Linked DNA regions of Homo sapiens. The protein of the gene in region 4 purifies or fractionates together with the protein of the main gene of each other region. This does not show direct contact. Each region holds a gene or a part of one and is shown on either strand. Other genes may lie near its edges.

Evidence for each region. The genes of interacting proteins can lie anywhere in the genome.
Region 1: the proteins of PELI1 (region 4) and RBBP8 purify together in Homo sapiens (affinity purification with western blotting, with the first as the bait; one study listed by BioGRID). This does not show direct contact.
Region 2: the proteins of PELI1 (region 4) and TICAM1 purify together in Homo sapiens (affinity purification with western blotting, with the first as the bait; one study listed by BioGRID). This does not show direct contact.
Region 3: the proteins of PELI1 (region 4) and DEAF1 purify together in Homo sapiens (affinity purification with western blotting, with the first as the bait; one study listed by BioGRID). This does not show direct contact.

Annotation. Positions count from the first base shown.
Region 1 is NC_000018.10:22,992,328-22,995,827, reverse strand, and holds part of RBBP8 (DNA endonuclease RBBP8), read right to left. Parts: intron 3,081-3,500; coding exon 2,189-3,080; intron 2,108-2,188; coding exon 1,981-2,107; intron 1-1,980. UniProt on the Homo sapiens protein: Endonuclease that cooperates with the MRE11-RAD50-NBN (MRN) complex in DNA-end resection, the first step of double-strand break (DSB) repair through the homologous recombination (HR) pathway.
Region 2 is NC_000019.10:4,825,213-4,828,712, reverse strand, and holds part of TICAM1 (TIR domain-containing adapter molecule 1), read left to right. Parts: intron 1-3,500.
Region 3 is NC_000011.10:678,223-681,722, forward strand, and holds part of DEAF1 (deformed epidermal autoregulatory factor 1 homolog), read right to left. Parts: intron 2,868-3,500; coding exon 2,741-2,867; intron 1,595-2,740; coding exon 1,466-1,594; intron 601-1,465; coding exon 472-600; intron 1-471. UniProt on the Homo sapiens protein: Transcription factor that binds to sequence with multiple copies of 5'-TTC[CG]G-3' present in its own promoter and that of the HNRPA2B1 gene. Down-regulates transcription of these genes.
Region 4 is NC_000002.12:64,141,621-64,145,884, forward strand, and holds the start of PELI1 (E3 ubiquitin-protein ligase pellino homolog 1), read right to left. Parts: upstream 2,801-4,264; 5' UTR 2,461-2,800; intron 1,907-2,460; exon of another isoform or gene 1,698-1,906; intron 1-1,697. UniProt on the Homo sapiens protein: E3 ubiquitin ligase catalyzing the covalent attachment of ubiquitin moieties onto substrate proteins. Involved in the TLR and IL-1 signaling pathways via interaction with the complex containing IRAK kinases and TRAF6.

The DNA.
Region 1 (3,500 bases), on a different chromosome or scaffold from region 4:
ATAGCAAAAAAGTGACAACTTGAATGTCAGCTAATAAATACCTAAAATATGGTATACTTATGCAATAAAAAATTATCCAATAAAAAGAAATAAAATATTGATATATGCTGTAACACAGATAACTGAAAACATTATGCCAAGTGAAAGAAGTAACAAAAGATCATATATTAAACGATTCCATTTATATGAAAACTCCCAGAATAGGCAAATCTACAAAGAGAGAAAGTAGATTTAAGGTGCCTAGGACTGCAGAGGGTATATGGGGAAGGAAAGTGATGAAAATGTTGTAAACCTAGACTACAGTGATGGTTGTACAACTCTGTGGGTATACCAAACCACTGAATTGAACATTTTAATGGGTGATTTTTATGGTATGTGATTTATATTTCAATTAAAATTTTTTAAAATTAAAAACTATAACATTGATGGGGTTTTCAATATATGTAGATAAAATACACAGGAACTACATAAAGTGTAGTTACAGAACATGAAATAGTACATTAACTCCAAGTAGATTGTAAAAGGCTAAGTAGGTAGATACTGTAATCCCTAGAGCAACCATGAAAAAAATAAAAACAAAAAGCTCAAAAAAAATCATGAATGATAGTGAAAAAAATGTTTTCATATAGAGACTAAAACACTCACTGGAAAAACAACTAATGACTGTGCTTCAGGAAAAAGGGAAAATAAACCCAGAATAAAGGAATAACTTGCCAATGAAGAATACAAGAAAAAATACTGCACTTGAACTACAGAAATGTTTGGTGGCTGAAAAAAAAAATTACTTTTTTAAAGATAGCAGGCTGGGCGTGGGTGGTTCACACCTGTAATCCCAGCACTTTGGGAGGCCAAGGCAGGCAGATGGCTTGAGTCCAGTAGTTCGAGACCAACCTGGGCAACAAGGCGAAACCCAGTCACTTCAAAAAATAAAAAAATCAGCTGGGTGTGGTGGTGCATGCTTGTAGTCCCAGCTATCCAGGGGGCTGAGATGGGAGGATCCACCTGAGCCTGGGAGGTCAAGGCTGCAAGTGAGCCGTGATCATGCCACTGCACTCCAGTCTGGGTGACAGAGTAGGACCCTGTCTCAAATAATAATAATAATAATAATAAAATATAGCAAAATTATGAAAAGATGCCTATATATCTTAAGGCAAACAATTTTTTTTTTCTTTTTTTTTTTTGAGACGGAGTCTTGCTCTGTCACCCAGGCTGGAGTGCAGTGCAGTGGCACGATCTCGGCTCACTGCAAGCTCCACCTCCCGGGTTCACACCATTCTCCTGCCTCAGCCTCCCGAATAGCTGGGACTACAGGCGCCTGCCACCATGCCTGGCTTATTTTTTGTGTTTTTAGTAGAGATGGGGTTTCACCACGTTAGCCAGGATGGTCTCGATCTCCTGACATCGTGATCCACCAGCGTCGGCCTCCCAAAGTGCTGGGATTACAGGTGTGAGCCACCGTACCGGGCCAACAATGTTTTTAAAGGAGTTTAAAAACGTATATAAGTGGCCGGGCGCAGTGACTCACGCCTGTAATCCCAGCACTTTGGGAGGCCGACGCTGGTGGATCACGATGTCAGGAGATCTAGACCATCCTGGCTAATGTGGTGAAACCCCGTCTCTACTAAAAATACAAAAAAAAAAAATTAGCCGGGCATGGTGGGCGCCTATAGTCCCAGCTACTCGGGAGGCTGAGGCAGGAGAATGGTGTGAACCCGGGAGGCGGAGCTTGCAGTGAGCCGAGATCGCGCCACTGCACTCCAGCCTGGGCGACAGAGCGAGACTCCGTCTCAAAAAAAAAAAAAAAAAAAAAAAAGAACAGAAAAATCACCGGTAAAATGTGAGAATCGTCCTATAAATACAGACACCTGAAGGAAGAAATAAGTTTTTTTCCAAAACAATTCAATCTATTTAAAAAAGTAAATAATGACATTCAATCTGAAGTCATTAAAAAAGTGGAGATCCTGTTTATGGTGTACACACCTTGGTTGTTTTGTAGAGACTTTATTTTACCAGTTCTACATGGATTTAACTGAAGAACTGATGCAAGTTCACATCCTCCATGGTCTGACCTGGTTTGTATTTTTATTGGCTCATGAGAACCAGCACTCTAAAACAGAAATAATTGTTAGCTCTAAATGAAATCACAAGCAATCATTTTAATCAAAATCCTTGAACATTTAACACAAACCTTTATGTCATCTAAAACATTCTCAGTCTCCAAACTTTCACGTGGACGTAGAGGAATTTTAAAGACAGCATTTTCTTCTTTTATTTGTAATGATGGTTTATTGTCTGGAGAGCATTTATTCAAGGGCTGAAGGATGATGCATTCCTGTGAACAGGGCTCCCCTGGGGAATCTTTGGGCAACGTGCAGTTGCCATCTGAGGCCTTACGGCTTGAGGAAAAGCCCTTTGGAATGGTCTTCAAAGCCTCATAAAGAGTCACTTGCCTAAATTTGTTTTTAGAAGTCTCACTTCCTTGGCTTTTCTCTTGACGCTGAATAGCTGAAAATCGATCAGACAGATCCAGAGGTTTATCCATCACACAGTCTCCATTCATGGAAAACTGATTATCCATTGGAAAAGGGAAAGCATTTTCTTTATCAAAAGAAGCTTGGGGGCAGCTTACTTCATGTTCACTTTCTTCCTCAGTTTTCTTCCTTTTGGATGTTCGGCCTCCCAATGATTTCAGGGGCTCCAAATGTTTATCAGTGTTAGAATCTTTACCGTACTCAGTCCTATTCTGTTCACCTAGGGATTCACTTATATTTTTATTTATAAGTATCTGTTTATTAGATGACTGGATAATGATCTTGTTCACTTCAGACCCAAGACTGTGATGTGTGAAAAGGGCACTATCTTCAGATTTTGATCTAGTTTTTTCTAATCTAGATATACAAGTGTTGCTAAAAGGGAGTGTTTTCAGATGTTTTTTTTTCCCAGGCTGTAAAAGAGAAGGGGACAAACTTGTATTCAAATCTAAACCACTTTTGATACTAGAGGTAGCTCCAAATACAGGAGATGACACTCGAGTAGGTAATTCTTCTTGAGGAGGAGTCTTTGAAGTAGAATCTGAAAATCTAAATAAAGAGTGATAACAATTCTTTAATACAGAATTAATAGTAAGGTCTTATCTACCTCTTAGAAGCAAATGATTAACCAAAATTTAAGACAAGGTACAGCTTTTGGCTTCTCTTCATTTAGATGACAAAAGAGAAGGGGAAAAGCAGAGGAAAATGACATAGGAAGTATTTCTCAACACCATAATATTCATATTTTAAAAATTTTTCCTAAGTACTTTAAATAACTTTATTATACAAAAAATCATCTTTTGCCAGGCGCAGTGGCTCATGCCTGTAATCCCAGCACTTTGGGAGGCCAAGGTGGGCAGATCACTTGAGGCCAGAAGTTCGAGGCCAGCCTGGCTAACATGGTGAAACCCCATCTCTACTAAAAATACAAAAATTAGCCGGGTGTGGTGGCACACGCCAGTAATCCCA
Region 2 (3,500 bases), on a different chromosome or scaffold from region 4:
AAAAAAAAAAGATTATCTGGGCGTGGTGGCAGGCTCCTGTAATCCCAGCTACTCAGGAGAGTGAGGCACAAGAATCACTTGAGCCCAGGATGCGGAGGCTGTAGTGAGCCTAGATCGCACCACTGCACTCCAGCCTGGGCGACAAAGTGGGACTCCGTCTCAAAAAATATATATATGTATATATATTTTACTGACATGTAGGCTGGGTGCAGTGGCTCATACCTGTAATCCCAGCACTTTGGGAGGCCAAGGTGGGAGGATCGCTTGGGCCCAGGAGTTCCAGACCCCGTCCCTACAAAACATTAATAATTAGCTGGGCATGGTGGCATGTGCCTGTAGTCCCAGCTACTTGGGAGGCTGAGTGGGAGGATCACTTCTTAATCCCAGGAGGTTGAGGCTGCAGTGAGCTATGATCACACCACTGCACTCCAGCCTGGGTAACAGAGCAAGATCCTGTCAAAAAACAACAACACAGGAGGCTGAGGCAGGAGAACGGTGGGAACCCGGGAGGCAGAACTTGTAGTGAGCCGAGATCGCGCCACTGCACTCCAGCCTGGGAGACAGACCGAGACTCCGTCTCAAAAAAAATAAAAAAAACAAAAAAGAGTGTGAATTCTAAGTGTTAAACTCAATGAATTTTCAGCATGACGCCCAGCCCCACTGCTACCCTGTCCCAGCATGGCCCTTCTCCACACTTTATCATCTATGCCCTCTTATCAGCTAAAAATTGGAGGGTACGTGCCAATGTATGTTTGCTTTTTGCTTGGTAAGTTATACACACAACCGTTCCCAGGAAACACCGGGAGGTGGGAAGAGCAGTTGATTCGTGGATCATCGAACTTAACGGGGGGTGGGGGTATTGGACCGTATTCCAAGTAGTTGTCTTGATCATTTCAAAAAGTTTTGGCCGACTTGTGGTCCCACCTGAATATAGGATCTTTTTTTTTTTTTTTTTGAGATGGAGTCTCACTCTGTCACCCAGGCTGGAGTGCAGTGGCACCAACTCGGCTCGCTGCAAGCTCCGCCTCCCAGGTTCACACCATTCTCCTGCCTCAGCCTTCCGAGTAGCTGGGAGTACAGGTGCCCGCCACCACACCTGGCTAATTTTTTGTATTTTTAGTAGAGACGGGGTTTCACCGTGTTAGCCAGCACGGTCTCGATCTCCTGACCTCGTGATCTGCCCGCCTCGGCCTCCCAAAGTGCTGCTGGGATTACAGGCGTGAGCCACCGCGCCCAGCCCATTTTCATTTTTATCCCATTTTATGTAGAGCTTACAACAGAGATAGAAGCTGGGCATCTGGCCTTTTTCTTTTTTTTTTTTTTTTTTTTTTTTTTTTTTTGGAGACAGAGTTTCACTCTTGTAGCCTAGGCTGGAGTGCAATGGCATGATCTCAGCTCACCGCAACCTCCGCCTCCCGGGTTCAACCTCCACCTCCCGGGTTCAAGCGATTCTCCTGCCTCAGCCTCCCGAATAGCTGGGATTACAGGCTTGCGCCACCATGCCCGGCTAATTTTTGTATTTTTAGTACAGACGGGGTTTCACCATGTTGGCCAGGCTAGCCTCGAACTCCTCACCTCAGGCAATCCACCCGCCTCGGCCTCTCAAAGTGCTGGGATTACAGGCGTGAGCCACTGCGCCCGGCCGTCTGGCCTTTTTCTTATTGTCCGATTGTGCCTGCATTATTTTATTATTATTATTATTATTATTTCCTAAGATTATTAGGAAAAACCTTTTATCCTCCACTTCTCTAGAGGAGTACTTAGGCCATATGCTTATTTCCTGAACATTAGTTTAATTAAAACTAGGTGAGGCTGTTTCTCAGGCCCCATAACCAGGTCCACATAAGCTGGAGTCTGTGTTAAATCTGAAAATGTTAAAAGGAGCCAAAAAGCTCAGTGGATTCTAGAACCAGACAGCCTGGGTTCCAATCCAGCTGTATCCCTTATGAGCTGTGTGACTCTGGACTACTTACTCAACTTCTCTGTACCTCTGTTTCCTTGTGTCAAAAAGGGGCCATACTCCAATATTACTGGACTGTAGTGGAGATGTCTAAAACTGTGCTGTCCAACAGAAATATAACATGAAGCAGCCGCGAACAGTGGCTCACGCCTGTAATCCCAGCACTTTGGGAGGCCGAGGCTGGCAGATCACTTGAGGTCAGGAGTTCGAGACCAGCCTGGGCAACATGGTGAAACCCCGTCTCTACTAAAAATACAAAAATTAGCCGGGTATGATGGCGGATGCCTGTAGTCCCAGCTACCCGGAAGGCTGAGGCAAGAGAATCGCTTGAACCTGGGAGGCAGAGGTTGCAGTGAGTCGAGATCATGCCATTGCACTCTAGCCTGGAAAATGGAGCAAGACTCCATCTCCAAAATATATAAATAAATAAATAAATATATATATATATCTCCTAATAATACATTTTATTAATCCAATATGTAAATGCATTTAATAATATATTTTATTTAACTCAATATACCCAACATGGTCCAATATAATGTTCCATTACGAATGAGGCATCTTCCATACCTTTTTTATTTTGTTGTTTTTGAGACAGCGTCTCACTCTATTGCCCAGGCTGGAGTGCAGTGGCGCGATCTCCGGTCACTGCAGCCTTGATTCTCCTGGCCTCAGGCGATCCTCTGACCTCAGTCTACCAAGGAGCTGGGGCCACAGGCATGCACCACCACACCCAGCTAATTATTTTTATTTTAATTTTATTTATTTATTTATTTGTTTGTTTCTTTATTTTGAGATGGAGTTTTGCTCTTGTTGCCCAGGCTGGAGTGCAATGGTGTGATCTTGGCTTACTGCAACCTCTGCCTCCTCGGTTCAAGCGATTCTCCTGTCTCAGCCTCCCGAGTAGCTGGGATTACCAGCACCTGCCACCATGCCCTGCTAATATTTTTTATTTTTAGTAGAGACAGGGTTTCACTGTGTTGGCTAGGCTGGTCTCGAACTTCTAAACTCAGGTGATCCACCTGCCTCAGCCTCCCAAAGTGCTGGGATTACAGGCGTGAGCCACCACACCCGGCCTATTTTTATTTTTTGTAGAGATGGGTCTCACTGTTGCCCAGGCTGGTCTCGAACTCTTGGGCTCAAGAGATCCTCCTACCTCAGCCCCCTAAAGTACTGGGATTATAGGCATGAGCCACTGCACCCTGCCTTAATTAATTAAAAATTAGATAAAATGCCGGCCGCGGTGGCTCACGCCTGTAATCCCAACACTTTGGGAGGCCAAGGTGGGAGGATCACTTGAGCCCAGGCAACATGGGGAGACCCAGTCTCTACAAAAATACAAAAATTAACGGGTACATATCCAGGTTTGTTATATAGCTAAATGGCATGTCACAGGGTTTGGTGTACAGATTATTCCATCACACAGGTAATAACTGTCGTACCTGATAGGTAGTTTTTTGTTGTTGTTGTTTTAAGACAGAGTCTCGCTCTGTCGCCCAGGGTGGAGTGCAGTGGCGCCATTTCAGTTCACTGCAACCTC
Region 3 (3,500 bases), on a different chromosome or scaffold from region 4:
GCAGTTAAACGAAAAATCAAAGTTAGAATGCATTTACAGTGTATCGTCATTTTAAAGATTTAGGCCACATTTAGGCCTTGGTTTTTCTTTCTTTCACCAGATACCGAATGTCTATGCCAGCTCTGGAGAGACCAAGACCTGCCACTGGGGAGTGTCTACCCTCAAGAGGACAACAGCAAACTCACCAGAAAGAACTTCAGGCTTCACAGGCCAACTGGTTTCTAGGGGCGTGCCCTGCTGCTGTACCAAAAGCAACTTCCACAGCACACACATGAATGGACGTGGCTGTGTGTCAGTAAAACTTTATTTACAAACATAGGCAGTGGGCCACACTTTACCAGCCACTGATCTAATGCATCAACAAAAACAACAAACCAAACCAAAATGAATCCCATTTCACTTAGGAATTCTTTCATTGGAAGCAATTCTGAGGACAATAACCTGTACATGTGTGAATTCTTTCAAACCTACCTATTTTGGGATGTGACGTTGGCAACGCAGCTTCTGGAAACGGTGCGATCTGGCAGCTGTCCTGATAGCCGGGGTAGTGAGGCTCAGGGTGGCTGGCCCTGCATGGGGGCTGCACGCTGGCCTCTTGGACTGTTGGGGAGAAAAAGGACAGGGAGGCTCGGGATGGTTGTCCGCACAGCAGACTCTAAATATCACGCTGTATGGCTGCGCCATTCAGTACACATAGTAGCTTATGGCCACACGTGGCTACTGAGCCCCTGAAATGTGGTGATCCTGAATCGTTGACATAATAGGATTGGGGCTATATCAGGTGAAATAAAATAGATTATAAAAATCAGGCCGGGCGCGGTGGCTCACGCCTGTAATCCCAGCACTTTGGGAGGCCAAGATGGGCGCATCACGAGGTCAGGAGATAGAGACCATCCTGGCTAACATGGTGAAACGCTGTCTCTACTAAAAATACCAAAAAAAAATTAGCCGGGCATGGTGGCAGGCGCTGTAGTCCCAGCTACTTGGGAGGCTGAGGCAGGAGAACGGTGTGAACCCGGGAGGCGGAGCTTGCAATGAGCCGAGATCATGCCACTGCCCTCCAGCCTGGGGGATGGAGCGAGACTCCACCTCAAAAAAAAAAAAAAATCAGTTCTAACTCTATTTTCCTCAGTGTGGCTTCTAGAATATTCTCCAGCACACAACCAGCTAGGCTGCATTTCTGTTGCACAACTGCAGTCAAAAGCAGGAGCCGGCAGACAGAGAGTATTTTCAGCTTTGCCAGTTCTGGCATCTGTCACAAGTAACCCACTGCCACACGCCAACCCCATCCACACTGCACCGCCCACCTGACGTGGCTCACACGCTGTCCCCACCAACAAACGCCTGGTTCAAGGCCCCTCTCGAGGCACCCAGCAGCCTATGCAGCCCAATGTGGCGTCGGGGATGTGATGTCACAGACAGGGATATGCTGAGGACGCGTCAGGCAGGCACTGGAGCAGCTCACCTGTGGCCCCTGCGAAGACGTCGCCCTGGGCCGGACTCTCTGATATGACAGCAGTGGCCTCTACCGTGGACGCTCGGTCAAAGGTCAGTGCCCCCGAGGTCGTGATCTGTCCCGAGGGGGTCACGGTGACTGGAAAGGCAGAAGCACATTTCACGCGGCCAGGCAGTGGCGCCCACGGCACACAGGTCCCGTGCCACCCACGGGCGCCAATCCTTGTGGGGGCCTGGGCTGAAGGGCGGGCAGTGGTAACTGTACCCTCCCATGTGAAGGACACGGGGGAAATCCCAGACCTTGGAGAAGACCTCACAGGAGAAAACCAGGATGGCCAGGATGGCAACTTGCCACTACCAATTGTTCGCTGTTTAAACTGTGAACCATGGAAATGTGCTGCCCAGCCAGAAAACAAACATAAAATAAAACTTTCAGTGATTTTTAAGTACTTCGTGGTTCGAATTAAGAAAAAATCTTTAATCCAAGCTGAAGGTAAAAAGCAGCCGTGTCCCACAGCAAGGCTGCCCTGTGTCCCACAGCAAGGCTGCCTCTCCAGCTCAAAAAAAAATCCTGGCGACAGATCTTGAGACTCTGCTGCTGTGGGACTCTTCCTGCACCCACCACCCAGGGCCTCAGGAAGGAGCTGACAGGGTGTTTTAGAAAGACCTTACTCTATAAATGCAAAAACCCAGACTTAGTTAACAAAAGCCTATTACAAAGACATTTTCTCCTATTGCTACCTCTCCCCATTTAAATCCTGTCTGTACAAAAAAATAAAAACATTAGCTGGGCATGGTGGCACGTGCCTGTGGTCCCAGCTACTTGGGAGGCTGAGGTGAGAGCAGTGCCTGAGCCTGGGAGGCCGAGGCTGCAGCGAGCCGGGATCCTGACGCCGCCCTCCAGCCCGGCCACAGAGAAAGACCCACAGAGCTCTCCGCAGCCCTCGTCCAGCGCACTGAGAATCCCTCACCAAGGACGCCCTTGTCAGGAAACGTCCCCTGAGCGTGTGCTGGGCACTCAGCCATGCTCACTCATACTAGGAAACAGCCCAGGACAAGGCCAACAGTGTCCGGGTCCCAGGGAAGCAAGACCGAGCTGGGCACTGGGACACCCCTTCCCACCCGGGGGACGCACTGCAAAGGAGTGTGATGGCGTTGGAATCCCTCTGGCCACGCAATGTGCTTTAGAAGTGAGAATCCCGCAGTGGCCGTGGGAGTGGTGACGAGAGAAGGCAATGCACTCAGGTCCCCTCAGTAAACTAGAGCTGTGTTTTCTCAAACTCACAGGTGGTAGCCGCGGTGGCTGGAAGCAATGTGATGTTCTTGGGGGAGTCCTTCTTCACGGGAGTTGTGGGCAGTTCATTCTCCTTCTTGCGCCTTTTGTAAGGCACAAAAAGCCTGACTGGGCCACTCTGGGGGAGAAAGGAGAGAGGCCACCACCTTCATGTGTGCAAAAGCTATGCTGCGCTTGCAACTCCTCCTTAAGTGGGGGCACCGCGGGGTGTGTGAGTCACATGGTGAGACCACATTAAGATGGTAAGCGCCCCTAAAGATCCCACCTCTTTTTCTTTTTTGAGACGGAGTTTCACTCTAGCTGCCCACGCTGGAGTGCAGTGGCGCCATCTTGGCTTACTGCAACCTCCGCCTCCCAGGTTCAAGTGATTCTGCGTTAGTCTCCTGAGTAGCTGGGATTACAGGCATGTGTCACCACACCCGGCTAATTTTCTTTCTTTCTTTTTTTTTTTTTTTTTGAGACAGAGTCTCGCTCTGTTGCCCAGGCTGGAGTGCAGTGGCACAATCTGGGCTCACTGCAAGCTCTGCCTCCCGGGTTCATGCCATTCTCCTGCCTCAACCTCCCGAGTAGCTGGGACTACAGGCGCCCGCCACCAAGCCTGGCTAGTGTTTTGTATTTTTAGTAGAGACGGGGTTTCACCATGGTAGCCAGGATGGTCTCGTTCTCCTGACCTCGTGATCTGCCCACCTCGGCCTCCCAAAGTGCTAGGATTACAGGCGTGAGCCACCACGCCCGGCCGACTTTTTTTTTT
Region 4 (4,264 bases):
CATCATATTCTGAAATGATAGAACTCTTAAAATACAAAAGTGACATTCTGACAACCCAGAAGAGGCTGAACTTAAATCAAATGGAAACATCCTTTGGCTTCCCCTTTGAAACTTGCCTCAGTGGCATTTGGCAGTACTAGACTAACTTCCTACCCCGTACTTTTCAGTCATTTCCTTTAAGGGGTCTCAAAGAAATTATGAAACCTGCAAAGCCAGACTTTGCCAGTCAACACTAACTTCTGCCTGTGGATTCCAGTGACTGAGCCAAGACAGTGTTAGTAGCTTCCTTGAAGTACAAATGTTCCTGGTAAATCTGGCTTGAAAATACCACAGAAAAAGTTCAACATAACCAACTGTAAGAACATTTAAATGCCAATCTTAAGGAAAGAATGGATTCCCTCCCCCTACAAATTCCACTGAGGCAAATTTCCAGCTTACTTTTTAGAAGCAAATAAATACTACTACTATTACATTACAGCACTTCTACCATGCTAATAAAAAGCTAGGTGATAGTTTCCTCTTTAAAACCTGTACATTCACTACATGAGACACTATAACCACTTCACTACATGCAACTTTCCATACATATAACTGTTCTACTTTCCAATTATTTATTTTAAACTCAAGATCTCTTTTAACATACTATAGAAAGGGAACAGGTTAGAAGGCTTTGGGAAAAAAAATAAAATAACGAACATCTCACTTTCATTTTCTGATGCAACCACCAAAATCTAAAATGTAAGGACAACTATATAGTACAAAATTAAATTTAAGAGAATTTAGAGTAAGTGAAACTATTCACTATTACTACAGTTCTGATTATTATTTACCTGAGGAAAGAGCTAGTAGAAGTGATGCTTGGTTTAAATTTTTGGTGCTTTCCAGTATGGTACCGAAGAAATAAAAACTCACAAAATAAATAAGGTCCTCAGAGTTAAAGACTTTTCCCCAGAAGAGGTTGTTGGTATAAATAAAAAAAACAAGGAATTCATATGCTGTATTTGTACACTAAGAACAATGTTTTGAGACATGTAAATCTTATCACTCAGAAAATATTTTGTTGGCTATAAAGAAAACGCATCGTAAACTGAAACAGAACTGAATAAAGTGAACCTTTACCACAATTAAAATATTTTAAATTCACCCTATTATGAAAACTTAATAATAAATTCATTTATCCTTAAGTGTAAGAGTAATACATATTCGACACAGTAAAGGACAATGCCATTTCTGAAACAAAAGATCATGTGCAATGAAAACAAAGTAACATTTTGCAGAGTAAGAAAAAGTAAAGAGCCTGTGAACCGAAACAGATGACCTTTTCTTATATATAAAGCTTCAGTTTTTAGCACAACCAGCACCTTATGAATAAAGTTCTCAATAACATTTGTTGATATACTGTTTGATGACTAAACGACAGGAATATTGTTGGTGCTGTTAAAACCAAGGCACATTTCCTTGTGTGTAGTGATTAAAATCTGTTAAATGTACATTTTTAAAAAACCTCTGCCCTCTGTCCCCTTCTTGCTCTCTTGCCTCTAACAGACCTGCACGTACAAAAATAAAAGTAGATGGTGACGTGAGTTTATGATTTACATTAATTTCCCTACTCGGAGCATTTTTCACTAAGTCTTTAGAGGTTTTAAGATTCAAACACTATGTAAGAAGAATTATGGTTTGAACTACGTAACAATTACCTAGACATCTTTTGGACTTCAGTTAACCTGTAAGTAAAATGAGCATCTTTAACTTTTCCACGGGGCTTTGGAGAACGGGTTCTTCCTCATAAACGCTTTCATATACTCAGACACGAGGCGCGGTAGAAGATCAAGCGTATCCATCAATTTGAGAGCTTTTCACGACCTCAGTTTACCCACTTAGGGAAACGGGCGTATTAACTTGTTTCCTAGGGGACCCGGGGGTGAAATTAATTAGCGTGTTTAAAATGCTCTGAGATCCAAAGATGAAAGGAAATGTGAAAGACGCGCAGAGATGATGACAACAATCATAACAATAAAAAGAATGACTAACTTGAAGTCTGCGTTATGTAAGGGAGGAAAAGAAGTTATCAGATCCGCACAAACAAAAGGGAAACCCACCGCCCCTTTTGTTTCTCCCATTTCCCTCTCCTCCCCGCCACCCGCAGAGCTCCCCTCTCGCAGCCGGAGCGCGCGGCCAGCCAGGCGCGGGGCTCGGAGTTGGCCGCCGCGCGCCCCGCTCCCGGGCGGAGGGGGAGGCCGCGTAGGGCCGGTTCCTGACAAAGGCGCTTCCTCGAGCCAGGGCGCGGGATGCAGGCGCCGCAAACTCCGCTCCCCGCCGCAGCGGGGGCGCGCAGGCGGGCGGGGAGAGCCGGCTGCTGGCCGCCGGGGAAGCCGCCGAGGAAGTTGCGCGCCCGCCCTCCCCGCGCCCCTCGGCGGCCCCGCCGCCATCCATCCCGCGGCGCCCCGCGGTCACACTTACCGGACAATTGCTGGTGGCCGGGATCCCAGAGCGGCCCCCGAGACCCGAGGCGAGAGGGTGAAGTGTTGTGCGCGGGGAGCGCGAGCAGACAGCCCGCCGTTCCGCCGCTGCCCTCCGCGCCCGCCAGCCGAGCCCAGCGAGGGGAAGTTGACCACGGAGCCGAGCGCTGAGGAGCCGCGGACGCAGGGAGAGGCGTTGGGGCTGCTTTGTGGTGCGCTCCCGGAGGGCTGGGGACCAATTCGACCGCACCGCGGGACTAGGGCTGCTGCCGCTGCTGCTAGTGGAGGCGGCGGCGGCGCCCCCCGACGGTCCCTCCGCCTCACACCGCCTCTGGGTCACTGACATACACTCGCAAGGAGGGGAGGGGTCTAGCCGGGGGGCGGGGCCTGAGGGAGGGGACCGGGCAGGGCCACAGCGGAAGGCGGTGTCGCCGCACCGAGAAGGCTCTTGGGAATTGTAGTTCTCCGGTTGAAGAAAAAAGGGATTCATTGTTGTCCAGCACCCTACCAGGCTCGCTCTGCACTGAGCATGCTCGAGGGCGAGGTTTGGACCGCCCCCTCCCACCGTTACCATGGTCACCGACACACTTAGCGAACGTGTTCAGTGCTGCTGTTGGCTGAACAAGGACGGTCTTGTATTATGGTGTTGTTGGGGATCCAACCCTTAGACGGTCCTTCCTACTTTTCTCCACCTCCAACTCCTAGCCTTACCAGTCATAAGTACCCAGTGAGGTCTGACTTTCTCTCCATATTTCAGTCTTCCCTGCTGCGTAATTTATCTTCCACAAACCCTAAATCACAAATACCTCTGTCCCTCACTTCCCTCAATTGAATCTTCTCCGGCTAAATTCAATTTTCTTTACCTAAGACTTGTCGAAATGTAGTTGTTTCCAGTAATTGAACAATTAGGTTATAAAACTTAGGAATATCACCACTATCAAAGTCCCGTAATTAATTACTTTGCTCAGTTAGTCACATCTAACTTTAAGATTAGCAAAGGCAAAGTACAGAATTAAGACCCCTATATTTTACTTGATTACTATAAAAGAATCCGGGTTCGTTCATTTTAAGGCCTACAATTTTTAAGACATACAAATTTCATAAAGTATACGTTCAAAAGACAAGTTGAAAATTGTTTATGTGTATTGGCCAACTTTAGTTTGGTAATAAGAGAAGTCTGAACCAAGGTATGAGTATGTTGTTGGGCTGGTCAGCTAAGTCTACACCCATCTTGGGCACCCAGGTGTGGAAAGGTGGTAGGGAGGAGGGTGGAGAAAGGCAGGACACATTACTGGCTCTCCGGAGAGCTAAAGGCAACGCGTCCTGAGCGCTTTTGTTTTCCTTCTCCACCTACCTAGAACCCCACACCCTGGAAGAAAAAGATTAATGCTTAGGAATCAGACACACTTTTGGAGCAAGGCTTTCAGAGAGTCTCAAGATCAGAAATCCTTATATCTACAGACTATATAATTATACACTCATTCAAAAAATGCTTGTTGAGTGTCTACTTGTGCTAGGCACTGTTTTGAGCCCCAGAAATAGAGATACAAAAATGTAAAAGAAACATTCTTATTTTCAGAGTGCTTACTATGCAAAGGAGGAGACAGGTAAATAGACTTAATTTGAGAAGTACTACAATAGGAAAATGCAAAGCTACCCACAGATGTGGGCAAAATCAGGAAATGCTTCAAAGATCACTTGAGATAACTAGGAATTAACATGTTTGTGTATTTTGGTAGGGGAGGAGGAAGAGAGAGGTGGGTGAGAGCATTGGGGGTGGTGTTGGGGAGAGCATCAAGCACAAA